Homo sapiens: one gene and its partners. The protein of the gene in region 1 interacts with the protein of each later gene in a pairwise test. Each region holds a gene or a part of one and is shown in the gene's direction. Other genes may lie near its edges. The genes, in order: SVIL, ZNF16, STARD9 and LIMA1.

Region 1 (7,880 bases):
ATCAAGACCATCCTGGCCAACATGGTGAAACCTCATCTCTAATAAAAATACAAAAATTAACTGGGCGTGGTGGTGCGCGCCTGTAATCCCAGCTACTCAGGAGGCTGAGGCAGGAGAATCACTTGACCCCGGGAGGCGGAGTTTGCAGTGAGCCAAGATCATGCCACTGCACTCCAGCCTGGTGACAGAGACAGACTCCATCTCCAAAAAAGAAAAAGAAAGAAAAAAATTAGATTGGAAACAATATTCTAAAACACAGACATAATCTACTGATTTTTTGATAGCTAATATTTGCTTTTTTGAATTATTATTTTTTTTACACCAAGACATGTATTCTCAAGACAGAGTAAATCCTCCCAGCTCTGAACACCTATTCTTACCCCATTTGCTTTGGGTAGCCACTATCTCTTATTTCCTGAGTTTGTATTTGCTTTTGAAGTTCTTTCGTGATTTTTTCTCCCCAAAAATAATTAGCAAAATATTCTGTTAAAATTTTTGATTTAACGTTTCTGAATTTAAAACTATGCTGTCCTTAATGCTTCTTTTCTTCTCTCTCCTTATGAATGTTTCCTCTTTGGCAATTGCTTTTAAAGTGAACCTATCCCCGCTTCGTGTTCTGGGGGCACCCACCCTGTAATGGCGAGACTTCCTAGCCCCACTGTAGCTAGGAGCGCTGTGCAGCCTGCCAGGTACTGGACAGATACAGATGCATGCGGCACCCGGTGCAAAGGTGCCGAACAGCAGATGCATCCTAAAGTCTTGAATGTCTGTCGTTTGTTTGACAAACAAGTCAATGCCGTGAGTTGTTCCAGAATGCGTGGCATTTTGTTTTGTCATAGCACAAGGTGCTGATAACCACATGCTGGCGTGCGTGGGAAAACATTTTGTCTCTCTGCATATGTTATGTGTTAGAACTAGGATCACACTAACTCACGTATCCAGTTGCTTTGTTTGTTTTTCATAATAATGGTCATCCCTCAAAAATTTTGTTCTTCATCTAAATACTGTTATAGCACTTAATAAAGATTAATAGAAAAATGGGACATTGGCCAGGCGCGGTGGCTCATGCCTGTAATCCCAGCACTTTGAGAGGCCAAGGCAGGTGGATCACGAGGTCAGGAGATTGAGACCGTCCTGGCCAACATGGTGAAACCCTGTCTCTACTAAAAATACAAAAATTAGCTGGGCATGGTGGCATGTGCCAGTAATCCTAGCTACTTGGGAGACTGAGGCAGGAGAATCGCTTGAACCTGGGAGGCAGAGGTTGCAGTGAGTCAAGATCGTGCCACTGCACTCCCGCCTGGTGACAGAGCAAGACTCTGTCTCAAAAAAAAAAAAAAAAAAGAAAGAGAAAAAAAGAAAGAAAAAAAAAGAAAAATGAGACATTAACCTGAATGTTGAAATGCTGATAAGACCCAGTCTTTTTCAAACACCTGTAGACACAAATACAGACTGAAAACAATCCTCCCTCTTTCTAATTTATAGAGTCAATGCCATTATATTTTGGGACTGGGAAAATAACAATTTGTAGTGTCTAAACGTAGATGTTTTACTGTCGTGTTTCAGATTGTGGTGCTTTAAAATTATGTCCTCACATCAGGTCATATCCCTTCATTTTACTGTTATATGAGCCAAACCGCAAAAGCTAAAAATAATGGCAGTGCCGGGATAAAGCTGGTACACCCACAGCAGGGCCCTCCCGGAGAAGTGGGTTTCCCTGCCCTCCTGGTTACTGCACGAGGTCCACGGAGGACTCTGAGGCTCAGGTGGCTTTTTTGTCACTGGCCTCATTATACACCTGGAATATGGAAGCTGGCTACTCTTTGGCCTGGGATAGCCTGTGCATTGGGGATTCACTAGAATCAAGGCAGAATATCTCCTTTACTAGATCTGACAATTGGATCGGTCAGGGACAGAAGATATAGTGCATTACAAACCCCTAGAGATTCATATTGACCGTGAAGACTTCAGGCTTTCCTTCTCTTCTAGCTGGAAGTTGGAGGGAGCTATTTATTTATTTACTGATTTATGTATTCATTCATTTATTTTTGAGACAGAGTCTTGCTCTGTCGCCCAGGCTTCATCACTGCACACTGCAGCCTCTACCTCACAGGCTCAAGCGATCCTCCCACCTCAGCCTCCTGAGTAGCTGGGATCACAGGTGCACACCACCAAGCCTGGCTAATTTTTATATTTTTTGTAGAGATGGGGTTTCACGATGTTGCCCAGGCTAGTCTCCAACTCCTAAATTCAAGTGATCCTCTTGCCTTGGCCTTCCATAGATATGAGCCACCAGACCTGGCCAGTTGGAGGGATTTATAATCACCTGAAATTTTCTTTACTCCTCTGGTTACTGGAAATTGCAGATTTAAGTACCTTTTAGAAAACTGGTAGGAACCTATGAGAGTAAATGCTAAGCTGAAGCAGTGACTCTTTAAAAATTAAGCCATTTGTCTTTAGCAAGTAAAAATCAAGACCTTCTGTTATGTTGTTGACAGAGGACTATATCGTTTCCTAATTATTTAAAATGAAAGACCACCTTCTGAACCATATCTTTAGATAAGGTCTAAATACACCGTAGGTAATACTTTGTGACTCCCTTTCATTCTACTTATTACGATACTAACAATGCCGCCTCTCTGTCTAAGATAAGGTATAGCCAAGCTGACTTCAATGTCTTAAACAGGAAATTCGTTTTGTAGAAATAATTCGGAGCTCAAAGTCTGCTCTTTGTAGAAGTGATGATGCTAAGTGTCCTGTGCCGACTCTGCTTGTTGAGTAGCTGAACAGCTGCCTGCCTCTGTCCTAGACGTGCTTAGGGAAAAAGAAGCCCTTTGCAAAATGATGTGACACTTGGCAGAAAGTTAACGTAGAAACTTAGCGGTGTGCTTTTGTTTGTTGGTATATGTGTTGCTGACATTTTATTTTTTTCAGATTGCAGGCCTCTGCTCACCAAAAGGCCTTAGCCAAGGACCAGACAAATGAGGGCAAAGAGCTTGCTGAGCAAGGAGAACCTGATTCCTCCACTCTAAGCTTGGCCGAAAAGTTGGCCTTGTTTAACAAATTGTCCCAGCCAGTCTCAAAAGCGATTTCTACCCGGAACAGAATAGACACGAGACAGAGGAGAATGAACGCTCGCTATCAAACTCAGCCAGTCACACTGGGAGAGGTGGAGCAGGTGGGTGTGCTATAGTCCGATTGCAGTTTGTGTGTGTGTGTTCTTAAATTATAGCACTGCAGTATTCCTCTGAGGTCAATGATGTAATTAAGGTGCTCTACCAGGAAACTGCTACCTGTAGGTGATTTGGTAATAGCTTTCTTCCTAAAAATGAGAATTCTACCAAGTATGTTGCTCTTTTTTTGTTTTCATACCTTGCTTGCTGAAATATCTAGAATGAGTCCATTTTGGAGAGAAAAAAATAGTATGCCCAACTGTGTTTCACCCAGAGGATTTTGTTTAATGAGACGTATTATATAACTATGTCCAGGAATGGTTTTCCACTAAGAGAAACAGTGAAACTGCATCAAATCGAGTATTTCAGCTTCTGTCAATTCATAAACCAGGATTTATATAGATGATATTTTTCAAGCAGCTTTTTAATTTTTAACTGTGTCCTTCCAGGTGCAGAGTGGAAAGCTCATTCCTTTCTCACCTGCCGTGAACACATCAGTGTCTACCGTAGCATCCACGGTTGCTCCAATGTATGCCGGAGATCTTCGCACAAAGCCACCTCTTGACCACAATGCAAGTGCCACTGACTATAAGTTTTCTTCTTCAATAGAAAATTCGGACTCTCCAGTTAGAAGCATTCTGAAATCGCAAGCTTGGCAGCCTTTGGTAGAGGGTAGCGAGAACAAGGGAATGTTGAGAGAATATGGAGAGACAGAAAGCAAGAGAGCTTTGACAGGTCGAGACAGTGGGATGGAGAAGTATGGGTCCTTTGAGGAAGCAGAAGCATCCTACCCCATCCTGAACCGAGCCAGGGAAGGAGACAGCCATAAGGAATCTAAATATGCTGTTCCCAGAAGAGGAAGCCTGGAACGGGCGAACCCTCCCATCACCCACCTCGGGGATGAACCGAAGGAATTTTCCATGGCTAAAATGAATGCACAAGGAAACTTGGACTTGAGGGACAGGCTGCCCTTTGAAGAGAAGGTGGAGGTGGAGAATGTTATGAAAAGGAAGTTTTCACTAAGAGGTAAGTGACCAGTGCCCCTAAAGCTTTAGAAAGCCACTGGGTTTTAGTTTCTGCTTGATTTGTCCTGTGTCTATGATGGCTTTTAACAAAGTTCTATAGGCAGTTTACAGCTAGTATTGGTTAAAAGTTCAGCGGGAATCCTATTCTTCCCTGGATCTGACTAGAGGATACATCAAGTTTTCAGCAATAAAACTACTGGAAGAGCTTTCACACATCTTCATGGAGTTTCTGTTGACTTTGGTCACTCACACAATGGCCTTCTGAGCTGCTTAGTTCTGGTGGCCCCTTTTAGAAATTGATGACCCCAAAGGTCCAGGCTGGGTAAGCACAAGGAATTCAGGAAAGACTTGACCCCAGTCTCTGAATCGCTAGAGTGCTTCTTCCTGCATGCCTGTTTTGCAGGCTAGCAAGCTACACTGCGTGGGCCCTTCATCCTCTTTCTACGTTTGTATGAAACAGTACAGTGTAAGTTATAATAGGGGTTTGCGTTTGTGAGTATAGCACATTTGAATGTTAAGGTATTATTTTGGAGAATAGAACCATTCTGGAGTAAATAGTTAAAGCTGACTTCCTGTGTCTCGCACACAGGAGAGAAACCAATTGCCACGAAGCATTTTGCTGTGTGGGTAACCCTCCAGGAAGTTTGGTTTTCTCACAGAGTGTAGCGTGCTGCAGATTTGCATAAATCCCAGTGGATTGGGTCACCCGCCGTGTGCCCACGGATTGAACCCTGAGAGCTGCACTGTTGAGGGCGAATCGCTGGAAGAATGTTTGCCTGAGGAGTTCAGTGCTGATGTTGCTCTTTTCCTTCCCAGCGGCAGAGTTCGGGGAGCCCACTTCCGAGCAGACGGGGACAGCTGCTGGGAAAACTATTGCTCAAACCACAGCCCCCGTGTCCTGGAAGCCCCAGGATTCTTCGGAACAGCCACAGGAGAAGCTCTGCAAGAATCCATGTGCGATGTTTGCTGCTGGAGAGATCAAAACGCCGACAGGGGAGGGCCTTCTTGACTCACCCAGCAAAACCATGTCTATTAAAGAAAGGTAATGAGATTCGGTGAGCGAAAAGTAATTCTCTCGGGGAGGAGCTTACAGCTTGCTTTTAGAAAACAATCTCGGTGATGGGCAAAGAGATGAAATCATACATTCAGCTTCTAACAGGACTGTGCTGTTGTCCTGGAGTAATTCTAGGAAGCTGAGGTGTTTGAGAGTGAACTGCCTTTGCTCATGAGCCTGGTTTGGTAATGAGCCTGGTTTGGACAGGGCTGGTTCCAGACTCAGATGAGAAAACAAACAGAAACAGACTTCTGTTTTATTTATTTGTTTCCACTGTCCCAATATCTTTTATAATATTAAATTCTTGGACTATCTAATGACAGGAGCTGAAATCTTGGCTCTTCCCCTTTTAGATACACAGGGTTCATACTGAATGCACAAACCACTTGTGACTTTGTGTAAAATATGTGTAGAGGGAGTGAAGATAAATTTACATAGAGGGCATATATCTTTGGACTTAGAATCCAAGTTTTGTTTCTTTTACAGATTGTAAAATGGATGACTTTTCTGAACTGCATTTAGAAATTGTATGTCAGGTAATAGCTTGAAAGATTGCATTTCAGCATCAAATAACACAGTAGCCTAATTTCTTTCAAAAGAATGACGTAGGGTGCAGAGGAATATATTTAAATTAGACAGATACAGAGAACTGGAAGTAAATTACCTTGGGGATGTGTTTTCCTTGTTAACCCTTAACCACAGATGAATTAAGCAGCAAAAGATGCAATAGTGGGAATAAATTCAGAGTTTGATAGCAGAGTAGGGTGACTAAATAAAAACGTATTGTACTGAGGTGATGGACATTCTAAATAGAGGCTTGATCACTATGCATTTTATATGTGTAACAAAATTTCTCATGCACCACATAAATTTGTACAAAAAAAGGAGAAAGTATTCAGTAGGAAAAAAACATGATGGAATAGTTGATAGGAAAACTGGGTGAAGAAAAATCTTGTCAACTCCATATTAGGAGAACCATTTCCATCGCCTGTTCCCACAGTTCTGCCAACCTCCACCCTTCCTCAGCACCTCCCACCACACGGAAGTCTGCAGGCTTCACTGACCACTCTTATTTTTCTAGATACATTTCAAACTGCCTAAGACTATACTAAACCACAATGAAAAGTCTTCTTTCTTTCTTTTCCTTCTTTCCTTTTTTTTTTTTTTTTCTTTTTGAGACTAAGTCTTGCTTTGTCACCCAGGCTGGAGTGCAATGGGATGATCTTGGCTTACTGCAACCTCTGCCTCCCGGGTTCAAGCGATTCTCCTGCCTCAGCCTCCCAAGTGGCTGGGACTACAGACGCACACCACCACACCCAGCTAATTTTTTGTATTTTTAGTAGAGTTGGGGCTTCACCGTGTTAGCTAGGATGATCTCGATCTCCTGACCTCCTGATCCGCCTGCCTCGGCCTCCCAAAGTGCTGGGATTACAGGCGTGAGCCACCGTGCCTGGCCCCTTCTTTCTTTTTTTTTTTTTTTAGAGGAATGGTCTTCCTCTGTTGCCCAGACTAGAGTGCAATGGTGCTGTCACAGCTTCACTGCAGCCTCGAACTCCTGGACACAAGTGATCCTCCTGCCTCGGCCTCCCCAGTAGCTGGGACTGCAGACACGTACCACCATGCCTGGCTAATTTTTTCAAAAAGATTTTTTGTAGAGTTGGGAGGTCTCACCATGTTGCCCAGGCTGGTCTCGAACTCCTGGCCTCAAACAGTCCTCCCACCTCAGCCTTCCAAAGTGCGGGGATTACAGACATGCACCACCACACCTGGCCCTTCTTTCTAGTTTTAAGCCAAGCTTCTTGAACATTATTTGTAAAATAATAGATGCTATCTTTTTCAACTGACAAATTAATCACATTGTTAAATCTGACTTACTTTCTCCTTTACTTACTTAAAATTCATGATAAGTTAGACCTGGCAGGCTGAGGGGCATAGGGAAGGGGCAGAGGGGACAGTGCAATGAGGAGAGGGATGTCTTCAATCGGGGAAGCAGTTGGGCCTATTGAGGCTTGAAGTTCTCTTCCACGAAAATGGGGCTCAAAGAGAGTTTCATCCCAGAAACCCAAATATTGACAACTGGTTAGGTGAGGAAGAAGAGAGATCATTTAAGGAAATTAACAATAAATATCACTTATACACAAGTTCTGATGTTTTACACATGAGAAAATATCCCTGGGGTATTCCCCAGTGGGAAATACTAATATTATGCCCCCTTCTTTCAAAGGCTTTTAAAGGAGCCTTCCCATCTTTGGGAATATTCTGTCCATCTGGACTTAGGACTTTTGATGAAGAAGTCCTGTGTCTATCCACTAAGCAATAATTCCTGATTTACTTACCTGTTTTTTGGTAAATTTTAGTTGACCTGTATTTTTCTGAAAGCTTTAATCCTACTGTAAAATTCTCATTTTTAAAAGTGAGATACTGGAAAGACGTAGCTTCTTAGCTTGGGCTTTGTGGACATGTAAGGCGTTCAAGGATGGCTGTAAAGTTTCTGTGAACAGCCCGGAAGTGTATTCAGAATTGAATGGGTGAGCACACACACCTGCTGGCTAACAGAAGCCATAACTTATCATGGTCTCCAAGAGATCCCTGAGCCCAGTCTGTTCAGAATCATGATAGAAAGGAATG
Region 2 (7,880 bases), on another chromosome or scaffold:
CACCACTTGGATGGGGAGAGGTTTCCCTCGAGGAAACTGGGCATCTGCACTGTAAGGGCAGGCAGATGCAGTCACAGAGGGCCTTGTCACCCCCATCGCCCATGTCTCCTCCATTTCTGCTGCCACGTGGTAGGCACCTTAGTGCTGTACCTGCTTTGAATCTCATCTCCCACCATTCCTCTGAGCACCCTGCCAAGTTAATCTTGAGATATTAGTTTTGTCTCTCCTGACACAGAAATGTGGCCAGTGTTTCACCTTCATCTGGCAGCCAAGGCCCCTTATCATTGGTCCATAGTAACCATCCCTGTGAGCTCTGTTCATATCTCCTTGCCTTCTCCTTGATGGTGATCTGAGTCCAGGAGCACCACCCAGCCCTTCTTTCTTCCCCACATGGCCTATGGGTGACACGTACCATCACGTTGACTCCCTGCACCATCCTTCTGCCACCTTTCTTCACATCCCCTTTGCAGATCCCCTTGACCACACCCTCATTCTCAGCTGGTGCTCATGAAGGACAGAAGAGTCAATGTCAGTACAATGTGAGTGAAGGGCTGAGGTATGTCAGTGCTCCCAGTGGGCACCCGGGCAGGGTATGGTGCATTTACACAGTGAGGGGTGGGGGAATCAGTAACATGTGAGGAGCCCGTCATGCCGCCACGTGGGAGTGTCCTCTCTCCTGCTCACAGGGAGTAGTTAGGACTGGAGATGAGCCCAAGTTTGTGAATCTTAACAAGGGTGTTGATGCCTCAAGACTGGACATAATCACCAAGGAAGTTGGTGGCAGTGCAGAAGTGCACACTGGGGTGCCAACATGAAATGGGGAATGAGAGGCTAGGAGGGAGTAGCTGGTGCAAGTAAAGATGGGAACACCTGCTGTGGGTGCTGCCAGGATGGTGCAACTCAGATAGAACTGACCACTAGGATTTGGTAGGCGTTGACACATAATGATGACATGTGGGGCTGCAGCACAGGCTGCCCCTGGCTGTTCACCCTTTGGAGCTGCTGTTCTCCCACTCTAGGTGGGTCTGGCCTGCCCAGCTTCAGAGCATTGTGAATGTCAGCAACAAGGAGTGAGAAGAGTGGTCACAGCAGGATACAGGCCCACAGCAGGATACAGGCCCACAGCAGGATACAGGCCCCACAACAGGACACAGGCCCACAGCAGGATACAGGCCCGCAGCAGGGTACAGGCCCGCAGCAGGGTACAGGCCCCACAGCAGGGTACAGGCCCCACAGCAGGACACAGGCCCCACAGCAGGACACAAGCCCAACAGCAGGACACAAGCCCAACAGCAGGACACAGGCCCACAGCAGGACACAGGCCCACAGCAGGGTACAGGCCCACAGAAGGGTATGGCCCACAGCAGGGTACAGGCCCCACAGCAGGACACAGGCCCACAGCAGGGTATGGCCCACAGTAGGGTACAGGCCCACAGCAGGACACAGGCCCAACAGCAGGACACAGGCCCAACAGCAGGATACAGGCCCACAGCAGGACACAGCCCCACAGCAGGACACAGGCCCACAGCAGGACACAGGCCCACAGCAGGGTACAGGCCCACAGAAGGGTATGGCCCACAGCAGGGTACAGGCCCCACAGCAGGACACAGGCCCCACAGCAGGACACAAGCCCAACAGCAGGACACAGGCCCAACAGCAGGATACAGGCCCACAGCAGGACACAGCCCCACAGCAGGACACAGGCCCACAGCAGGACACAGGCCCACAGCAGGGTACAGGCCCACAGAAGGGTATGGCCCACAGCAGGGTACGGGCCCCACAGCAGGACACGGGCCCACAGCAGGGTATGGCCCACAGTAGGGTACAGGCCCACAGTAGGACACAGGCCCAACAGCAGGACACAGGCCCAACAGCAGGACACAAGCCCAACAGCAGGATACAGACCCACAGCAGGACACAGGCCCACAGCAGGGTACAGGCCCCACAGCAGTACACAGGCCCCACAGCAGGACACAGACCCTGTGGGGGCTGCCCTCCTATCATGGCAGGTCTGGGCACCATGACCCACTTTACCTTAGGGTCAGCATCTTGCCCCTTTGTACTGTGGCCCTGGCTTTTGAGTCTGTGTCTCCATGGCTGACTCCCTCTTTTTAGGTCCAAGATCAGGAAACACAGCATCAGCCCCTGAGACCTGGCAGCACCAGGCCCTCTTCAGGTCTTGGGCTGCAGGGGTGGAGGAAGAGACCCCGGCCTGATGGGAGGATGAATCCCTAGAGCTAGCCTGTCTGTAGACTCACCTGTGTTCTTGCCGGTTTTCAGGTCCTTGTCATGCCCAGCCTCAGAACTCGCCGTGAGGAGGCAGAGATGGAGCTCTCAGTTCCAGGACCATCCCCCTGGACCCCTGCAGCCCAGGCCCGTGTGAGAGATGCTCCTGCTGTGACCCACCCTGGATCTGCAGCCTGTGGTACCCCCTGCTGTAGTGATACTGAGCTGGAAGCCATCTGCCCTCACTATCAGCAGCCAGGTACTTTAAGAACAGTTCTCCGCTGGTGCCCTTATTCTGGGGAAGTGATGTCCATGGAACCCTGTGCTTACCCCTAGGAGGCATCTGTGTCATCACAGGTAGGGAGGGTGACGGGGTACTCTGACTCAAGGAGCCAAGGCTGGATGTCAGCAAGGAAGTTAACCTAGCCTGGCCCCTGGCACCTTGAGCAGAACTGTGATTTCCCCACTTGACACGAAGAGGTATGACATGATGGCCACCAGCGTCCTTTGATTTGCCCTATACTCCTGACCCCTTCCCAATTCAACAACCAGGCTGGTGGCAGCCCTCTCCCCTCAGGACTCTACTCTGGTCCAGGGCTTTGTACTGTGGTTACCCATACAGTTGGCCATCTAAAGCCTAGGAAGAAAAGCTGAGGAGTTTCTTGTGGGGAAATAGAGGCATTCAAAAGCACCCTTGGCCCGGGTGTGGTGGCTCATACCTATAATCTGAGCACTTTGAGAGGCCAAGGCAGGAGGATTGTATGAGGCCAGGAGTTCAGGACCAGCCAGTATAACATGGCAAGACCCTATCTCTACTAAAAAATTAAGAAAGGCTGGGTGTGATCACTCTCGCCTGTAATCCCAGCACTTTGGGAGGCCGAGGTGGGTGGATTGCTTGAGGCCAGGAGTTCGAGACAAGCATGGCTAACATGGTAAAACCCTGTCTCTACTAAAAGTACAAAAATTAGCCAGGTGTGGTGGCACATACCTGTAATTCCACCTACTTGGAAGGCTGAAGCACAAGAATTGCTTGAACCTGGTAGGCAAGGGTTGCAGTGAGCTAAGATCATGCCACTGCACTCTAGCCTGGGCAACTGGAGTGAGGCTCTGTCTCAGAAAAAAATACATAAATTTGAAAAAAAAAAAAGCACCTATATATTTTGGGGAATCCAGGAAGTCACATGCATGCGCAGGACTGGGTGTGTGCTCAGAAAAGACCTGTTAAGACCATAAGCTTTCTCAAGAACTCTGTCTAATCTCTAGGCTCAGTGAAGGCAGTCAACTCAGAAAGAGTTGTAAACAGCGTTTAAAAAGTACCCCAACACAGAGTCAATCCACAAAGACTGGGAGAAGTGTTTTGTGTTGGTTTTTCTCTTGATAAAATCTCTGTCAAAACACTGGTTGAACACAAGCTAAAGAAAAAGACTTCAGTGACTGTACTCGACAAAGAATAGTCTTTGCAAAAATAGTTTGGAAAAGTCACTAAATGAACATGTGACTCTAGTCTTCAACAATCAAAAACAGCAAAGCCTGGAGGGGGGATACCACATTTTAATATTCAGTTGTGCAGTTTTTAACAAAGCAAAAATCATGAAGCATATAACGAAGCAAAAAAATATGTCCCATTCAAAGGAAAAAAGTAAACTGACAAAAAGTGTCCTGGAGAAAGCACAGACATTGGACTTAAGTAGACAAAAACTTCAAATCAACTGCCTCAAATATGCTCAGAGAGGTGAAAGAAACCATAGAGAACTAGGCTGGGCATGGTGGCTCACACCTGTAACCCAGCACCACGGTGGCTCACACCTGTAACCCAGCACCACGGTGGCTCACGCCTGTAACCCAGCACCACGGTGGCTCACGCCTGTAACCCAGCACCACGGTGGCTCACGCCTGTAACCCAGCACCACGGTGGCTCATGCCTGTCATCCCAGCACTTTGGGAGGCTGAGGCAGGTGGATCACGAGGTCAGGAGATCAAGACCATCCTGGCTAACAAGGTGAAACCCCATCTCAACTAAAAATACAAAAAATTAGCTGGGCATGGTGGCAGGCACCTGTAGTCCCAGCTACTCTGAAGACTGAGGCAAGAGAATGGCATGAACCCAGGAGGCGGAGCTTGCAGTGAGCTGAGATCACACCACTGCACTCCAGCGTGGGTGACAGAGTGAGACTCCGTCTCAAGAAAAAAAAAAAGAAAAAAAGAAAAAAAAAAACCATAGAGAACTAAAAGAACCAGGAAAATGATGTGTGAACAAAATGAAAATATCAATAAGAAATACAAATTGTAAAAGAAACATAGAAAGTCTGGAACTAAAAAATGAAATGGAAATTTTGCTAGAGGGTTTCAGCAGTAGATTTGAGCAGGCAGAAAAATCGGCAACTTGAAGATAGGATAATTGAAATCATTCAGTCTGAGGAGAAAAAAGATCTAAGAAAAGTGAACTTAATGGCTGGGCGTTGTGGCTCACGCCTGTCATCCCAGCACTTTGGGAGGCCGAGGCAAGCAGATCACTTGAGGTCAGGAGATCGAGAGAATCTTGGCCAACGTGGTGAAACCCTGTCTCTACTAAAACTACAAAAATCAGCTAGGCGTGGTGATGCATGCCTGTAGTCCCAGCTACTCTGGAGGCTGAGGCAGGAGAATCGCTTGAACCCAGGAGGCGGAGGTTGCATTGAGCCGAAATCGTGCCACTGTACTCCAGCCTGGGTAATGGAGTGAGACTCTGTCTCAAAAAAAAAAGAAAAAAGAAAAGTGAACTTAATGGACCATGAGACACCATCAAGTAGACCAACGTGCATAGTAGGGATGTTCAAGAAGGAAAAGAATAGAGAAGGGGATGGAAAAAATATTTGAAGAAATAATGGCTGAGAGTATCCCCAATGTGATGAAAGACATGTCTACACACACAAGCAGTTCAACAAACTGAGTAGAGTCTATTTAAAGAGATCCACACCAGGTCTCTTTCTAATCAAATTGTTGAAATACAAGGAATCTTGAAAGCAGCAAGAGAGGAGACCTATCCCTGAACAAGGGGTTCTGGGTAAGATTTCTAGCCAGTTTTTCATCAGAACCCATGGAGGTCAGAAGGCAGTGGGACGGCTTAGTTAAACTGCTAAGAGGGGGAAAAAAACCTGTCAACTAAGAATTCTGTTATCTGGCAAAATTATTCTTCAAAATGAAGGAGAAATTAAAACATATCCAGGTAGATAAAAGCTGAGGAAGCTTGTTACAAATAGACTGCCCCACAAGGAATGCTTTTAAAGGGAGTCCTGAAGGTTGAAATGAAAGAACACTAGACAGGGACTCAAAGCCATACAAAAATAAAGACCTCCAGTAAAAGTAACTACATAGGTAAGTATAAAAGTTAGTATCCCTATATTTTGGTTTCTAAGTACACTTTGTATTAAGTTGGTGCAAAATTAATTGTGGTTTTTGCCATTACATATTTCCTAAGTGATCTAAAGAACAAATGCATAAAAGGTCTGCATTATAAGTCTATGTTTTTTACCCCACTATGTATAAAGGTGTAATCTGTGATGACAACAACATAAGGGGGGTAACATCTGTAGAGAAGCAGAGATTTTGTGTTACTGAGACTAAACTGGTATCAGTTGTTTTAGGATGTTAGAACGTTCATTGCAATCATCATGGTAATCAGTAAGAAAATATCTTAAAAATGGGCTTGACGCAGTGGCTCACACCTGTAATCCCAGCACTTTGGGAGGCCAAGGCAGGCAGATCACCTGAGGTCAGGAGTTCGAGACCAGCCTGGCCAACATGGTGAAACCCTGTCTCTACTAAAAATACAAAAATTAGCTGGGCATGGTGGTGGGCACCTGTAATCCCAGCTACTCAGGAGGCTGAAGCAGGAGAATTGCTTGAACCCAGGAGGCAGAGGTTGAACTCAGGCAGAGGCATGAGATTGTGCCACTGCATTCCAGCCTGGGTGACAGAGCAAAACTCCACTTCAAAAAAAAATCTTAAAAATGGGCCAGGCATGGTGGCTCATGCCTGTAATCCCAGCACTTTGGGAGGCCGAGGCGGGCAGATCACAAGGTCAGGAGATTGAGACCATCCCGGCTAACACAGTGAAACCCCGTCTCTACTAAAAATACAAAAAAATTAGCCAGGCAAGGTGGTGGGCACCTGTAGTCCCAGCTACTTGGGAGGCTGAGGCAGGAGAATGGCGTGAACCCGGGAGACGGAGCTTGCAATGAGCCAAGATCGCGCCACTGCACTCCAGCCTGGGAGACAGAGCGAGACTCCCTCTCAAAAAAAAAAAAAAAAAAATCTTAAAAATGGACACAAGAGGCCAGGCGCGGTGGCTCACGCCTGTAATCCCAGCACTTTGGGGGCTGAGGTGGGCAGATCATGAGGTCAGGAGATTGAGACCATCCTGGCCAACACAGTGAAACCCCATCTCTACTAAAAATACAAAAAATTAGCCGGGCACGATGGCACCCGCCTGTAGTCCCAGCTACTTGGGAGGCTGAGGCAGGAGAATCCCTTGAACCTGGGAGGCAGAGGTTGCAGTAAGCTGAGACCATGCCACTGCACTCCAGCCTGGGTGACAGCGAGACTGTCTCAAAAAAAAAAAAATGGACACAAGAAGTAAGGCAAGAATTAAAATGGTACACTACAAAAAAGGTAATACCTAAGAATACAGCAGTAGAGGAACTGAGGAACAAAAAGGTAAAAGATTTATCAAAAATAAATAAAATGGCAGAAGTCCTTCCTTTTCAGTAATTACATGTGAAGTCTCCAGTCAAAAGGCAAATATTGACAGAATGTGTAAGAAAACATGGTCCAACTATATGCCACAAGAGGCTTTAGATTCAAAGACACAATAAGTTTAAAGTGAAAGGTGGAAAAATATTCCATGCAGAGAATAACCAAAAGAGAGTTGGGGTGACTATACCAATATTAGACAAAATAGATGACAAATAAGGACAGTATGTATTTATAAAAGGGCAGAGTCATCAAGAAGATATGGCAATTATAAGCAGATACACATCAAAAAAAAGAGCTCCAAACTATCTGAAACAGACATAGACAGATTGGAAGGGAGAAATAGCTCTATAGTAATAGAGACTTCAGTACTCCACTTTGAAAAATGGATAGAACATCTAGACAGAAGATCACTAAGGAACTAGGGGATTTGAACAGCGTTACAACCCAACTAGACCTAATGGACGACCATCACTGTGGTCTAAATGTCCCCCCCAACCCCTCCCCTCTCCAGTCATATCTTGAAATCTAATCTGCAGTGTGTCGTTATTAAGAGGTGGGGCCTTTGGGAGGTGACTGGGCCATGAGAGCAGAGCCCTGTGAATGGGATTATCTCCTTATAAGAGGCCTGAGGGAGCTTGTTAGCTTCTTTTCTTGCCCTTCTACCATGTGAATACACATAGAAGGGAATACCTAGGAGGAACCAGCTCTCATCAGGCAGTGAATCCACTGGCACCTTGATCTTGAACTTCCCAGCCTCCAGAACTGTGAGCAATAAATTTCTGTTGTTTATAAATTACCCAGTCTAATGTATCTTGTTACAGTAGCCCAAATGGGCTAAGACAGAAGTATATAAAATACTCCATTCAGAAAAGAAGATATACATTCTTCTCAAGTGTACATGTAACACAAACCATATGTTA
Region 3 (7,880 bases), on another chromosome or scaffold:
AGATACCATTCTGCCTGGAGCTCTGACAAGGGTTGCACTGGAAGCTCCCACACAGCAGTGTGTGCAGTGTAAGGAGAGTGTTGGGTCTGGGTTGACAGAAGTCTGCAGGGCTGGCAGCAAACATTCCAGGCCAATTCCACTGCCAGATCAAAGACCAAGCGCAAATCCTGGGGGAATTGGGGAGGAAGCCCCATGTAGACACCCAAGGGAAGCTTTAGATGGCCCTGTCTTCTCAAGGAACCCTGAAGGCAGCAGGACTCTCAGCCCGTCTAGAGGGAAAGAGAGCAGAACTCTTCCTTGCCGACAGCCATGCAGTTCTCAACCTGTTGCTACTCATGCTTATTCCTCCCATTCCTCTACTTTACTGTGTTTTAGAGATGGTGACCTAGGGAAGGAGCCTTTCAAGGCTGCCCCACATACTATCCACCCACCCTGTGTAGTACCTTCCAGGGCCTATGAAATGGATGAGACAGGAGAGATCTCTAGGGGACCTGATGTGCACTTGACACATGGCCTTGAGCCCAAAGATGTTAACAGGGAATTTAGGCTAACAGAGAGCAGCACTTGTGAGCCTTCTACTGTGGCTGCTGTCCTATCTCGAGCTCAAGGCTGCAGATCCCCTTCTGCTCCTGACGTGAGGACAGGTTCCTTCAGCCACTCAGCTACTGATGGAAGCGTGGGGTTAATAGGGGTTCCTGAGAAAAAGGTTGCTGAGAAGCAAGCAAGCACAGAACTTGAGGCTGCCTCTTTCCCTGCAGGCATGTACTCTGAGCCCCTGAGGCAGTTTAGGGACAGCTCTGTAGGTGACCAGAATGCACAGGTGTGTCAAACCAATCCAGAACCACCTGCAACAACTCAGGGACCACACACCCTGGATTTAAGTGAAGGGTCTGCTGAGAGCAAGTTGGTGGTAGAGCCACAGCATGAATGTTTAGAAAATACCACTAGATGTTTTTTGGAAAAGCCACAATTTTCCACTGAGTTGAGGGATCACAATCGCTTGGATTCCCAAGCCAAGTTTGTAGCAAGGTTAAAACATACCTGCAGCCCCCAGGAAGACAGTCCCTGGCAGGAAGAAGAGCAGCACAGAGACCAGGCTTCAGGTGGTGGAGAAGGCTTCGCCCAGGGTGTGAATCCCCTTCCTGATGAAGATGGCTTAGATGGCTGTCAGATTTTAGATGCTGGGAGAGAGGAGGTGGCTGTGGCCAAGCCTCCTGTGTCCAAGATTTTATCACAGGGCTTCAAAGACCCAGCCACTGTGTCCTTGAGGCAAAATGAAACACCGCAGCCTGCTGCTCAGAGGAGTGGCCACCTCTACACTGGCAGAGAGCAGCCAGCACCCAACCACAGGGGCTCACTTCCTGTGACTACAATCTTCTCTGGCCCCAAACACTCCAGGTCCTCCCCCACACCACAGTTCTCAGTTGTCGGCTCTTCTCGTTCTCTTCAGGAGCTGAACTTGAGTGTGGAGCCTCCTTCCCCTACAGACGAAGATACACAGGGGCCTAACAGATTGTGGAACCCACATCTCAGGGGCTATTCCTCAGGAAAGTCAGTGGCAAGAACATCTCTGCAGGCTGAGGACAGCAATCAGAAAGCCTCATCTCGCTTGGATGATGGGACTACCGATCACAGGCACCTGAAGCCTGCCACCCCTCCTTATCCAATGCCTTCCACTCTCTCACACATGCCAACCCCTGATTTCACGACCAGCTGGATGTCTGGTACTTTGGAACAAGCCCAACAGGGAAAGCGAGAGAAACTGGGTGTCCAGGTTAGGCCAGAAAATTGGTGCTCTCAGATGGACAAAGGAATGCTGCACTTTGGCTCCAGTGACATCAGTCCCTATGCGCTGCCGTGGCGTCCGGAGGAGCCTGCACGTATCAGCTGGAAGCAGTATATGTCTGGCAGTGCAGTCGATGTTTCCTGCAGCCAGAAGCCCCAGGGGCTGACACTATCAAATGTGGCCCGGTGCTCCAGCATGGACAATGGCCTAGAAGACCAGAACTCCCCTTTCCACTCCCACCTCAGCACTTACGCCAATATTTGTGATCTGTCAACCACACACAGCAGCACTGAGAATGCCCAGGGTTCAAATGAGGCCTGGGAAGTATTCCGAGGGAGTTCTTCAATTGCCTTAGGAGACCCCCACATCCCGACGAGCCCTGAAGGAGTAGCCCCCACTTCGGGTCATGACAGAAGGCCTCAGTTCAGGGGCCCTTCTGGTGAAGCAGACTGTCTGAGGAGTAAGCCCCCCTTGGCCAAAGGAAGTGCTGCAGGTCCAGTGGATGAGATTATGCTGCTGTATCCATCAGAGGCAGGCTGCCCTGTGGGACAGACCAGGACGAACACATTCGAACAGGGCACACAGACCCTCGGCAGCAGGCGCCACTGGAGCAGCACTGACATCTCCTTTGCTCAGCCTGAAGCCAGTGCAGTATCAGCCTTTGATCTGGCCTCATGGACCAGCATGCACAATCTGTCTCTCCACCTCTCACAGCTCCTGCACAGTACCTCAGAGCTGCTTGGGAGTCTCTCCCAGCCAGATGTGGCCAGAAGGGAGCAGAACACCAAGAGGGACATCCCAGATAAAGCCCCACAGGCCCTGATGATGGATGGCTCTACTCAGACCACTGTGGATGAGGGCAGCCAGACTGACCTCACCTTACCCACCCTGTGCCTCCAGACTTCAGAGGCTGAACCTCAGGGAGCCAATGTGATCCTTGAAGGGCTAGGCTCAGATACCTCGACTGTGTCTCAAGAAGAGGGAGATGTGCCAGGGGTACCTCAGAAGAGAGAGGCAGAGGAAACAGCACAGAAAATGGCTCAGCTCCTCTATCTTCAGGAAGAAAGCACTCCCTACAAGCCCCAGAGCCCTTCAATACCCTCATCCCACTTGAGGTTTCAGAAAGCCCCCGTTGGGCAGCATCTTCCTTCTGTGAGCCCCTCAGTTTCTGATGCTTTCCTGCCTCCCAGCTCCCAGCCAGAGGAGTCATATTGCTTAGTTGTCAGCAGTCCCAGTCCCAGCTCCCCTCATTCCCCAGGGCTCTTTCCCAGTACTTCCGAGTATCCTGGGGACTCCAGGGTCCAGAAGAAGCTGGGCCCCACAAGTGCTTTGTTCGTGGACAGGGCCTCCTCCCCAATCCTCACTCTTAGTGCCAGCACCCAAGAGCCGGGTCTTTCCCCAGGCTCTTTGACCCTCTCAGCCCCTTCAACTCACCCTGTTGAAGGCCACCAGAAGCTTGACTCCAGCCCAGACCCTGTTGATGCCCCAAGGACTCCAATGGATAATTATTCCCAAACCACTGACGAGTTAGGTGGCTCCCAGAGAGGTAGAAGTTCCTTACAAAGGAGTAATGGGAGATCCTTCCTTGAGTTGCACTCCCCACACAGCCCACAGCAGAGTCCAAAACTCCAATTTAGTTTCTTAGGGCAGCACCCTCAGCAGCTTCAGCCCAGGACAACTATCGGGGTCCAAAGCAGACTGCTGCCACCACCACTGAGGCACAGGAGCCAAAGGCTGGGCAACAGCTTTGTGCCTGAGAAGGTGGCTTCCCCGGAGCATTGCCCACTGAGCGGTAGGGAGCCAAGTCAGTGGCAGAGCAGGACAGAAAATGGAGGTGAGAGTTCAGCATCTCCAGGGGAACCACAACGCACTCTGGACCGACCTTCTTCATGGGGAGGCCTCCAGCACCTCAGCCCCTGCCCTGTCTCTGAGTTGACTGATACTGCAGGGCTCCGAGGTTCTGCCTTGGGCCTCCCTCAGGCCTGCCAACCTGAGGAGTTACTGTGCTTCAGTTGCCAGATGTGCATGGCCCCTGAGCACCAGCACCACAGTCTGAGGGACCTCCCGGTGCATAACAAATTTAGTAACTGGTGTGGGGTTCAGAAGGGCTCACCTGGGGGGTTGGACATGACTGAGGAGGAGCTGGGGGCCAGCGGTGATCTCAGCTCTGAAAAGCAGGAACAGAGTCCCCCACAACCTCCTAATGACCACAGCCAGGATTCTGAGTGGTCCAAGAGGGAGCAGATCCCCCTGCAAGTTGGGGCCCAGAACCTCTCACTCAGCGTGGAACTCACAGAAGCGAAACTGCACCATGGCTTTGGGGAGGCCGATGCCCTGCTCCAGGTGCTGCAGAGTGGGACAGGGGAGGCGCTTGCTGCTGATGAACCTGTGACATCCACCTGGAAGGAGCTCTATGCACGGTAAGGACCCCCAGCCTGGAGTCGGGAGGGGAAGGGGTGGGCTGTGAGGAAAGAGAACCCAAGAAAGCTAATAGCTTGCTGTTTCCTCTGCCCTGGTTCATCTCTGGGATCTTCCAGGGGTCAGAGATAGATCTTAAAGTGAAGGACATTCAGGGCCAGCTTCAGCGAATCGTGTTTTGCCTCAGGCAAAAAAAGGCCATTGAGACCCTCAGGAGAGAGCGGGCTGAGCGACTTGGGAACTTCTGCCGGACGCGAAGCCTTAGCCCTCAGAAACAACTGAGCCTCCTGCCCAACAAAGATCTCTTCATCTGGGATCTTGACTTGCCCAGCAGACGCCGAGAATACCTGCAGCAACTGAGGAAGGATGTTGTGGAGACCACCAGGTAGTGTGGACCGAGAACCCTGCTGGGAGCAGGCTCTGTTGGGGGAGGGGAGTATGGGGAGCAGGAGCTGAAGTTTTAGCATCCTGGAGGGTTCTCTATAGGAGACAGGGTAAATGGAAAGAGGACATAGAAGGGAATGGAATGAGGGAGGGGGTGGGCAGAGAGAAGGCACAGGAAATGATGGACAGAAGGGCTCTGACATGCTATGCAAGTCTGCAGGCCTGGGTCTCAAGGTGGCTTGGTTCTCTCTGTCCAGCAACCTCTCCTGAGGCTAAAAAATCATACTTTAAAACCCTGTGGGCAAATGGAGGTTGGGTCTTTTAAGAAGGTGGTATCACCCAAGCTAGCCTTGGATGGACAGACCAGGACTGTCACCCACCCACCATGTTCTTTCCACCCCGTGATCTTCCTCAGGAGCCCAGAGTCAGTGTCAAGGTCAGCTCACACACCCTCTGACATAGAGTTGATGCTGCAAGACTACCAGCAGGCCCATGAGGAGGCCAAGGTGGAGATTGCCCGGGCCCGAGACCAACTGCGGGAGCGGACTGAACAAGAGAAGCTGAGAATCCACCAGAAGATCATTTCCCAGCTATTGAAGGTGTGGAGTGGGGCATGCCTCTGATTTCAGGATAGGCCTGGACCTCAGACTGGTACACCTTCACCGTGGCCGCCTCTGAGTCTTGGGACATACGTAACATTTGGAGGAGGCTGTGGGACCCCTGTTGTCAACTCAAAGCTGGGCTCACTGTCTTTTTACATCATCACACCAGCTCCTTTCCCCAGGCCACGGCCTGGGAGGAAGAGGCTTTGGTGTGAGGTGCAGGGTGTGGGGAAATACGAGCAGTGGTGGCTTTAAGGAAGCCAGGGCATGTGAGGCTAAGTCAGGGAGGCCCTGGGAGGTGGGTGAAGGAGCAGTAGAGGTGAGCAGGGAAGGGGTGGCTTTGGGTAGGAAAAGGCGTGGCCTGGGGAAAGTGAGGGTGCATCAGAAGCTGGTTAATGGTGATTTGTCCTTCCCAGGAAGAGGATAAACTACATACCTTGGCCAATTCCAGCTCCCTGTGCACCAGCTCTAATGGAAGCCTCTCGTCTGGCATGACCTCTGGCTATAATAGCAGCCCAGCCTTGTCAGGCCAGCTCCAGTTCCCAGAGAATATGGTGAGTAGGCAGATGTTGGGAATGAGCCAGGGGCCTGGACTGCCAAGGCAAGAGTTTGAGCAGGACGCTGTGCCTCCTGGAGTTTGGGCAAGACGCCGTGCCTCCTGGAGGCCACTGCTGACATGAGCCCTTCTTATGTGCAGGCCTTTGGTTTTCCATTTAGTTCTGCCCCCTGCTCCTTCTGTTCATTCATTCAACAAATGTTTATTCTGTGGGTATTATTTTAGGATACAGCGGTGAGCAAAACTGTTCTTGTCCTTAGACTGTTTGAGGGATAAATATTAAACAACTGATTTTATTGTTTAGTTATTGTTGCAGTAAATTGTTTGAAGGCGGGTTGCTAAACCAGCATAAAACCAGGGGTCTGACTTAGTCTAGAAGGTCATAGAGATACTCCGAACAGAATGTGTTTAAACTGAGACTAAAAGGATAAGAGGTAGTTAATGCAGTAAAAGCTTATTGGTGCTGTTATTGGGAGAGATGTGGGCCTAGCAAGTGAGGCCTTGAGGAAGAAGAGTTTGAGGAACTCAATGAAGGTTAGTGTGGTTGGAATGTAAAGAGCGAGATGGGAAAATGACATGAGAAGGGACTAGAAAATCATGTGGACTATAATGAGAGTTCTGGCCCCTTTCTAATCCATCTCATTGTGTTACTTCCCAAAAGTGAAAAGGCTGCTGAAAGTAATAGAAAACTTTTAAGTAGGGGAGTAGAATGACTGGATAGTAAGAAAAGGAGGCAGGAGCAGCTGTGGGAGACCTCCTAGATGACCACGGCAGAGCTGAGAGAGATGATTGCTTGCTTCAGGGCACTGCTAGTGAAGACGAACAGAGGAGGATGTAATGGAGAGAGAGATCTGCAGGACTTGGTGACTGGTTGGGTGTTAGAGGAAGGAAGAGCGGGGAGTTGAGAAGAGCACACACTTGACTTGAGCAGCTGAAAGGCGGTCATGTGAACAATGACAAGGAACACTGGAGGGAGAACCAGGTTTTGTGTGGGAGATGATGAGTTCAGGTTTGTACTTACTGAGTTGAAGGTGCCTGTGAGAAATCCAGATAGAGCAGTTGGAAATATAGAGCTCATAAGTAAGATCTGGCTGGGGATGAATATTTGAAATTCATTTTACAAATACAACGTCATTTAACAAAATAATGTTTAAACAGTAGCAAAAGACATACAATGTCAGGCACATGTTTGAGTCTCCTATTTGCTTTCCCCAGAAGCAGTCATTTACCCCAGTTTGTTGTATATTTCCAGGGATGATGTATATACATCTTTTTGTAAAGCAGATGAATGGGAGTATACTGTACTCACTTTCTCACTTTGCTTTTTCTTTTAAAAATATCTTTGGGATATCATTGCATATCAGTAAATCTAGTGCTGACTTCTTTTAATTAGTTATTTTAAGAGCCAGGATTTTGCCATGTTGCCCAGGTTAGTCTCAAACTCCTGGGCTCAAGCTATCTTCCCACCTCAGCCTCCTAAAACGCTGGGATTACAGGTGTTAGCTACCATGCCTGGCCTTCTTTTTAACAGCTGAATAGTGTTTCTTTTTTTCTCTTTTATTGCATGTTTTTAAGTTTGATGTTTTATATAGATAATATATTCATATAGTAGAAAGGGCACAAATATATACACATACAGGTTGAGCATCCCTAATCCAAATATCAGAAATTCAAAATACTCCAAAGTCTAAAACGTTTTGAGCACTGTGACACCGGAAGTGGAAAATTCTACACCTGACCTCATGTGACACATTGAGTTGAAACACAGTCAAAACTTGGTTTCATGCACAAAATTATTTAAAACACTATATGAAATTACCTTCAGGCCGTGTGTATAAGGTATATATCCAACATAAATTTTGTATTTTGACATGGATCCTATCCCATCATATCTCCTTATGCATATGCAAATTCTCCAAAATCCGAAAAAATTCACAATCCAAAACACTTCTGGTCCCACACATTTTGGAGAAGGGGTACTCAACCTGTAAAAGGGATACAGGGAAATACCCATCCCCGCCCTCAGTGTACCTAGTTCCTCTCCCTCACCCGACCCAAGGAAAGCAGTGTTGTTTCTTGGAAGGTATCCTCCTAGGGGTCTTTATGCATACAAAATAAAGCATATTATGCCACT
Region 4 (8,255 bases), on another chromosome or scaffold:
TCCCAGCTACTTGAGAGGCAGAGGCACGAGAATCACTTGAGTTCAGGAGTGTGAGGTTGTAATGAGCTATGATTGTGCCACAGCACTCCAACCTGGGCAACAGAGTGAGACCCTGCCTCAAAAAAAAAATTATTAAATGGAATGACTTCAAACTGATGACTTAACCAAATATTCAACTTGAGAGTCATGCTTTCTAATGCCAATTTTTAATTTTTCCAAAGCTTTTATAGTGCATTCTATTAATTTTTTAATTTTCTGAATGTTGGTTGATCTTAACTGCAGTGCAACTGAAAGTAATGAAAATTATTTAAGAATATCAATCATTAAAGTAAGGTATTACAAGAAATTAATATTAGCTGATCTTGTTGCTAGGCCAGAATAAAAAGAATGAGAAAAATGCATTTATAATGTAGGATATGTGTGCCATGCAGCATTAGCGGTTGGTAAAGTACATGTCCACCCATCTCAACCTAAGTACTTGGCTAATTTTAATAATTTCAGTTTCAAGTTATTTAGCTATAATTTCCAACTGTTTCCTTTTTTTGGGTTGGTGGTAAACAGAATAAATTTTATCCATAATATTGTTATTTTTTCTTGAGACGGAGTCTCACTCTGTCTCAGGCTGGGGTGCAGTGGCACAATCTCAGTCCACTGCAACTTCCGCCTCCTGGGTTCAAGTGATTCTCCTGCCTCAGCCTCCCGAGTAGCTGTGACTACTGGCGTGCACCACCACGCCCAGTGAATTTTTGTATTTTTAGTAGAGACAGGCTTTCACCATGTTAGCCAAGCCAGTTCTGAATTCCTGACCTCAAGTTATCCGCCTGCCTCGGCCTTCTAAAGTGCTGGAATTACAGGCATGAGCCACCGTGCCCAGACTATCCAGAATATTTTTAAATGATTGACTTGTTTTATTTCAGATACTGAATTATAATTGGTAACAGAACCAAATGATGACATTAGGAAATTTTTCTGACAAATCTGTGGCCACTCCAGTCTTCTTTCCCATTATTGTGAAAGCACCATTAAAACAAAATGCAGCTTACTTTCAACTATTCATTATTAAATTTCAAATATTCATTACTGAAGCCACATTTAAAGTAGACAATATCGGCTGGGCGCGGCGGTTCACGCCTGTAATCCCAGCACTTTGGGAGGCCAAGGCTGGTCGATCACTAGAGGTCAAGAGTTTGAGACCGGCCTGGCCAACATGGTGAAACCCTGTCTCTACTAAAAATACAAAAATTAGCTGGGCTTGGTGGTGCACGCCTGTAATCCCAGCTACTTGGTTGAGACAGGAGAATCACTTGAACCCAGGGGGCAGAGGTTGCAGTGAGCCAAGATCGTGCCAGTGCACTCCAGCCTGAGGGACAGAGCACAACTCTGCCTCAAAAGAAAAAAAGTAAAATAGACAATAATGTAGTAGAAATATAATCTGTGTGGCAGACACCAATTACTTTTTTTTTTTTTTTTGGAGATGGAGTCTCGCTCTGTTGCCCAGGCTGGAGTGCAATGGTGTGATCTCTGCTCACTGCAACCTGTGTCTCTGGAGTTCAAGCGATTCTCCTGCCTCAGCCTCCTGAGTAGCTGGGACTACAGGCGCACACTACTACACCTGGCTAATTTTTGTATTTTTAGTAGAGATGGGATTTCACCATGTTGTCCAGGCTGGTCTCGAACTTCTGACCTCGTGATCCGCCCACTTGTGATCTGCCCACCTCAGCCTCCCAAAGTGCTGGGATTATAGGCGTGAGCCACCGTGCCCAGCTGACACCAATTCTTTTAAAGCAACAAATATCTTTACCAGTACAGAAGCTTATTCAACTGTGTACTGGAGATAAATCTCTAGGTAATTTTCTTCCAATATGTAGATGTCTCATCAATTATAGTGCATATTTGCCATTCTCTTCCAAGATTCTTAAATATGTTGACATAATTTCTTTTGCAGTATGTTCTGCTATTCTTGTTGCACCGTATCATGTATGTAAACATTTGCCTGTATCTACTCCATTTTTCCCTTTCAACTCTATTGTTCCCTTCACTATCAGATAAAGGCCTATGAGTTTTTTGTTTGAGACAGGGTCTTGTTCTGTCGCCCAGGCTGGAGTGCAGTGGTGTGATCTCGGCTCATTACAATCTCCAACTCCTGGGCTCAAGGCATCCTCCCACTTCACACTCCCAGGTAACTGGGATTACAGGCACACACCACCACACCCAGCTTTTTTGTCTGTTTATTTTATTTGTTTGTAAAGACAGGGTTTTGCCATGTTGGCCAGGCTAGTCTCTAACTCCTGGCCTCAAGTGATCCCTGCCTGGGCCTCCCAAAGTGCTGGGATTACAGGTGTGAGCCACTGCACCTGGCCCATGCCCATTCTTTAAGTATTGTCTATGGCTACTTTGGCACATTTGGCACTACAGTGAGAGCTGAGTAGCTGTGACAGAGACTATAAGTCCCACAAAGCCTAAAATATTTACTATTTGGCTGTTTACACAAAAGGTTTGCTAACATATGGTCTAGAAAAATCAACAAAACAATAAATCACGCCCTGACTTGCTGCATTTGCCCATTTCCATGGTGTAAATACTCCCCTTACAGCCAATTTCGTGCTACCAATGTGACATTTCTGAATAGAGTTGGGAAGAGATGCATACAACATATGTAGTATTTCCACAGGGAATACAATGGACAAATAACCTCAAGAGCAGAATTATTAGTAAAATGAAGAAAAAAACTACAAAGTGATGAGTTTTTAATATTTATTATATTTAAAAATTTTTTTTTAGAAATAGGGTCTCACTCTGTTGCCCAGGCTGGAGTGCAGTGGTGTGATCATAGCTCACTGCAACATCAAACTTCTAGCCTCAAGCCATCTTCCCGCCTTAGCCTCCCAAAGCACTGGGATTACAAATGTGACTCAACATGCCTGGCCTATTACTTTTATTTTTAAGATAATTTAATTGTAGCTTATATAATTTGATTTCTAATAATGGTTGTGCTTATGACCTGGCTCATAAAATCCCTGAAAATTTAGCAATCAACCTAATGCTAGCTCTATCTTCAAAAGGAGGCTTTGGGAAAGCAAGTAATTTTTGTATCCACTAAAGCACAGAGCTAAAAAAAATTGGGGGGAGGGGAGACATCTATTGAGGGAACGCCACATGCAGGGTAACGTATTTTCTGGAGTACTATCCTGTATTGATATTGTATGCTCTTTAGCATTCCCATGCTGTCTGCCACTTTTGCTGGAGTCTTGATACTTGATACTGTTAATGCAAAATAAGTAGCAGGCCATTAGTTTGGAGTTGTTTTTGTACCCAGAAAGCAACCCAAAATTTAGAGGTATTCCTTGCACCTTTTGTTTGTTTTGTTTTTTTGAGATGGAGTCTCGTTCTCTCATCCAGGCTGGAGTGCAGTGGCGAGATCTCTGCTCACTGCAATCTCCACTTCCCGGGTTCAAGTCATTCTCGTGCCTCAGCCTCCCGAGTAGCTGGGATTACAGGCACTTACCACCACGTCCGGCTAATTTTTGTATTTTTAGTGGAGACGGTGCTTCGCCATGTTGGCTAGGCTGGTCTCGAACTCCTAACCTCAGGGGATCCGCCTGCCTCAGCCTCCCAAAGTGCTGGGATTACAGGTGTGAGCCACCGCGCCCGGCCCCTTGTACCTGATTTTGAATGGAGTTTCAACCAATCACAAACAGACAACCAGCCAAGTGGTTATATAATTAGGGACCTCCCATGTGACCATACCCAAATAAGGCAAACGCTTAGCTGTAGCCAATCAAATTTCTTTACTTTCGTGTTCAGCCTATAAAGTTTGATGCCTGGGCAGCTAGAGCAGGGGTGTCTGAGCCTCTTTTGGTTCTGACTGTTGTCCGATTCAAAATCTAAGTTTGTTTTGTCTGAAATTTTTATTTCTACAATACCTATCCAGAAATCAGTCTAGGCTGGATATTTGAAGGAAGAAGGGAATAACTGGCTGGCATATTCATCACCTGTTGGAAATCTCTCTTCTCACACATTTTCATTAACTTCTTGAGGAAGTGTAATTACAAGCGTTTTCCCACGAGCAGCCCCTACTAATAACGCATCAAGCTGCATGAATTCCGAAAAGCTTCAGAAAACTTGTGGTCTGAAACCCTACTATGCTTGAGGTACAGGAAAGAAGGATACTATCAAAAGGCATCATGCAGCTGGCACGGAACTGGGACAAGAATTTGGGGGCAGGATGGCCAAGTGCTAGGCCAATTGACGGTCTCCAAACCATTAGCACAGCTCCTATTCTGAATGGAGGAGTAAAAACAGCTGTTGGAGAACTTGGACGTCATCTGCCCTTGTCAAACCGTTTTCAGGATTAATGTACTTAATTCAGCTTTTTCCACTACACCACACAGCCTCCTGTAAAACACCCTCCCTGCACACAACTTACCCCCAAAGCACCAGGAACCTAGCTGGCTAGAGTTGAGCTTAGGAAAAACCTGAGTGGCTCCAGAGTCAAACTGCGATAACGTTGAGTCAGAGGAGTTAAGGACAAAGTAGAGCTGCACAGAGGCCCACGTCGTGCAAGTGCGTGTCTCCTTCAGAGAAAAGCGTGCCGAGGTAGACTAGGCCCCGGGCAGCAAAAACCCTGTCCCGTCGCCAGCGCCCCGCACCGCCAGAGCGACTGGAGCAGACGCGAGCGCTGGGCACGTAGCCGGTGGCGCGCACGCTCAGCCCGAGGCCGCACGGGAGGCTGTCTGGCGTGCGCGCCCCCGCGGCGGTGGGCGGGGTCCGGGGCGGGGCCGCAGGAGCAGTAGGTGTTAGCAGCTTGGTCGCGACAGGTGCGCTAGGTAGAGCGCCGGGACCTGTGACAGGGCTGGTAGCAGCGCAGAGGAAAGGCGGCTTTTAGCCAGGTAAGGGCCTTCTCTCTCCACAACCGGAGAGTGCGGGAAGACCCCGGCTTCTCTCCACACCCTCTTTCTCCTTCGACTTTTGGGGCGGGGGGAGTGCAAGGAGTGTGAGTCCCTCCCCCTCGAGATAAGGGGTCGAGGGACGCTGATCCTCCGTTCTTTCCTCACTTCTGGGGCCTGCGCTGGGTGGGGAGTGCTTATGTCGGGCTGAGCCTTTGCTGCCCAAGGGCGGGAGCTGCAAATACCCCGTCCTCTCCCACCGAGAACACTGCATTCTAACTGTATACTTTCTGGTGTGGTGGAGGAAGGTGACAATTCATTAAAACTCCAAATACCCTCCTTCCAGGGAAATACTGTAATATTCAACTGTTCTTTTTCCTTCATTTTCAGCCATTCCCTCTCTTTTCGATTTTTTCTCCCTTCCATTACGCCAGCTGAACTCTGTTTAAGACACTTACACCCTTTTGAGGAATGTTGAGAATATAGCAGTCCTTGCAGCCGATGTGTCATCCCCGAATCGCTATCGTGTATATATCGCTGGCACTTGCCCCCGACATATGTTGGTGTTAATGTAAGGTAATTGTACACCCCTGGCTACACATACTAAAGCTTGAAGTTGTAGCTGCTAGGAACGAACCATCTGGCACCCTTCCTAGCCTCCTTACTGATGCTTGCAAGAACGGTTTAGCTGATCCTGGTGAGAGATATTTGAACTACTATTGTCTTGCACCTAATTCCAGCTTTCAAAAGTCTGCCTTGGACGGGCGCAGTGGCTCACGCCTATAATCCCAACACTTTGGGAAACTGAGGCGGGAGGATCGCTTGAGCCCAGGTGTTTGAGACCAGCCAAGGCAACTTAGCGAGACCCTTGTCTCTACAAAAAAATAAATAAATAAATAAAAATAAAAGATAAGTCTGCCTAATCCAGATCTGCCTAATCCAGATGGTTCAATTGACTTGACTTTTCAGGTTAGTCAAAGGTAATTAGGGAGTTATCAGTTTTTAAGGCAATGCCCATTTTGGGGAGAGGTTTTCTTTTGCATTAAGTATTCTTTCTTTTGCTCTTGATTTAAATGGTTTAACACAGTACCTTTTATCTGCTTGGTTACCAATACTATTCACAAATGCTAAATATTTCAGGAGCCATGAAATAACACCAATCCTTTCTTCTGAGGTATGATGTAGACACAAAAGAACATGACCCCTAACAACATGTTCTAAGTTCCTGTAGAGGTATAACCTGGGTGCAGGATGATCACGTTTTAGATAGATCTTCAAAAAATTATAGAGTTGGCGTGAAAGAAGGCAAAAAAAAGTGTGTGTTCATATATGTTTTCTTGTTTTGCATTGATAGAACAACATATAATGTACTAGGTAATTAGTTTAGGAACTTATTTCATTCTTTGGACAAAATATTGAGTGCCTTTCATGTCAGTCCTACTGTAGATTCAAAGTGCCAAACGTCTTTACCCTAAAAGAACTTAAAATCAAATGGGTTAGACAGATCCACATACAATTTATGGTATTAGTGAGGTCATTTCTATACTAGAGGTCAGCCCAGGGTACTGTAGGAGCATAGGGAATATAGGTGTTTTGTTTTGTTTTTTAATTCTCTCTTCTGCTTTTCCTTAAAAACAAAAACCTCTGAGTAATAATGAGTGATTCTCTTCAATCTATGTATTTGTATCACTTTCATATTTCTTACCCTCTCTTCCTCCAATTCTATGGCCTATGGAAAATGGGATTAGACCCTGTTGTTAATGTGGCATTTAGTAAATAGTTGGATCTGTTTCCACTGTTCTGTATTGGGCTGGGAAGTGTTGTTATCAGGTAGTCCCTGGGAAGAGAACAGTATATTGGCAACATTAGCAAAGGAGTGCCATTTTGTAAAAATTACCTCATTGTATAACTTTCTTTAACTTGGTACACTCAAGCTTTGTTCCAGACTCTGGTTAAAGGTGGGGCTAAATTTCAACCTAATAATTCTAAAAGAAAGCTTCAGAAGCTAAAACAATTCACATCTTGGTGACAGGGGATACTTTTTCCTGCTAAGATGCCCTCAAAATGTTTTTCTCTTTCTTTTTTTCTTGGGTGGGGAAGACAGGGTAGATAGGTGGGTGGGGAAAAATGTTTTTAAGTATAATTTTGACTAGTGTTTCTTCAGGTTTCAAATTCTTATATTTTCTCTGGTATTTTTCACCAGTTAACTGCAATTAACTTAGAGCCCTCGTACCAAAAAAATTTATCAAAGACACACACACAGACACAAAAGAATATTGAGAGTGTGGGAGTTCATTAGACATCTTTGGCATAATAGGGCACCTAACCACAAATTGGAAGAATTTATTATTTAAATTGACAGTGAAACTAGTTTCAGGCATTCTTAATTCCATACACTATTAGATAGATGACTTTTAGATTAGAATTGTACCCTTTCTGCAGATAGGAAAATGTATAACGAGTCCTAAGTTAGTAATTTCCATTAGAAAAGGCAATTGTTTTTTAAGTTTGCTATTGTCTTTCACTGTATGTTTTTTGATAGAAACTTAAGGTACTTCATTTTAGATTGCATACAGTAATCTCCAGGTGAGGTTACTTAACACAGCCTCTTCAGGTTACTAACAAACCAGTGGTTGTAAATGAAGTAGTTTCTACTTAATGATTATGGAGTTGAGAGTCTATGGTGGATGATAAGGTAGGACCATACTGATGAGTTTATTCTGAAGCTGGGTGCAGAGTCCTCAAGACTCAGTCAAATTATTGTGCTACTGAAGACCTCTTTTCATAAAAAGGATGGAGTTTGACCTAACAAGCAATCCATTATTCAGCATGTCAGATGATTTCTTGACACGTGAAAACTTTCTAGAGACTTCCTGTGTCCACTCATAAGAAGTTAACATGATACCATGAAAATTTTACATTCTTTTGATGTTCTTTTAAATAATTTCTTAATACTACTACCCTGGGCCGGGCGCGGTGGCTCACGCCTGTAATCCCAGCACTTTGGGAGGCCGAGGCGGGAGGATCACGAGGTCAGGAGATCGAGACCATCCTAGCTAACATGGTGAAACCCAGTCTCTACTAAAAATACAAAAACAAAATTAGCCGGGCGTGGTGGCAGGCGCCTGTAGTCCTAGCTACTCGGGAGGCTGAGGCGGGAGAATGGCGTGAACCCGGGAGGCGGAGCTTGCAGTGAGCGGAGATCGCGCCACTGCACTCCAGCCTGCGTGACAGAGTGAGACTCCGTCTCAAAAAAAAAAAAAAAAAAAAAAAAAAAATACTACTACCCTGAAACTAAGAACTTTCATCTTTAGGGGAAAAAAAGATGCAACTTTTTTGTACTTCTGATAACAAGTGTGGATCTATTTT

What was found.
Region 2: the proteins of SVIL (region 1) and ZNF16 interact in a two-hybrid assay, tested with the Homo sapiens proteins (one study listed by IntAct).
Region 3: the proteins of SVIL (region 1) and STARD9 interact in a two-hybrid assay, tested with the Homo sapiens proteins (one study listed by BioGRID).
Region 4: the proteins of SVIL (region 1) and LIMA1 interact in a two-hybrid assay, tested with the Homo sapiens proteins (one study listed by BioGRID).

Annotation. Positions count from the first base shown.
Region 1 is NC_000010.11:29,519,770-29,527,649, reverse strand, and holds part of SVIL (supervillin), read left to right. Parts: intron 1-593; coding exon 594-689; intron 690-2,934; coding exon 2,935-3,178; intron 3,179-3,622; coding exon 3,623-4,199; intron 4,200-5,014; coding exon 5,015-5,240; intron 5,241-7,880.
Region 2 is NC_000008.11:144,940,616-144,948,495, reverse strand, and holds part of ZNF16 (zinc finger protein 16), read left to right. Parts: intron 1-470; exon of another isoform or gene 471-556; intron 557-2,280; 5' UTR 2,281-2,289; coding exon 2,290-2,485; exon of another isoform or gene 2,486-2,583; intron 2,584-7,880. UniProt on the Homo sapiens protein: Acts as a transcriptional activator. Promotes cell proliferation by facilitating the cell cycle phase transition from the S to G2/M phase.
Region 3 is NC_000015.10:42,690,137-42,698,016, forward strand, and holds part of STARD9 (stAR-related lipid transfer protein 9), read left to right. Parts: coding exon 1-4,206; intron 4,207-4,323; coding exon of another isoform or gene 4,324-4,336; exon of another isoform or gene 4,337-4,391; coding exon 4,392-4,589; intron 4,590-5,003; coding exon 5,004-5,187; intron 5,188-5,606; coding exon 5,607-5,744; intron 5,745-7,880. UniProt on the Homo sapiens protein: Microtubule-dependent motor protein required for spindle pole assembly during mitosis. Required to stabilize the pericentriolar material (PCM).
Region 4 is NC_000012.12:50,280,054-50,288,308, reverse strand, and holds the start of LIMA1 (LIM domain and actin-binding protein 1), read left to right. Parts: upstream 1-4,788; 5' UTR 4,789-4,889; intron 4,890-8,255. UniProt on the Homo sapiens protein: Actin-binding protein involved in actin cytoskeleton regulation and dynamics. Increases the number and size of actin stress fibers and inhibits membrane ruffling. Inhibits actin filament depolymerization.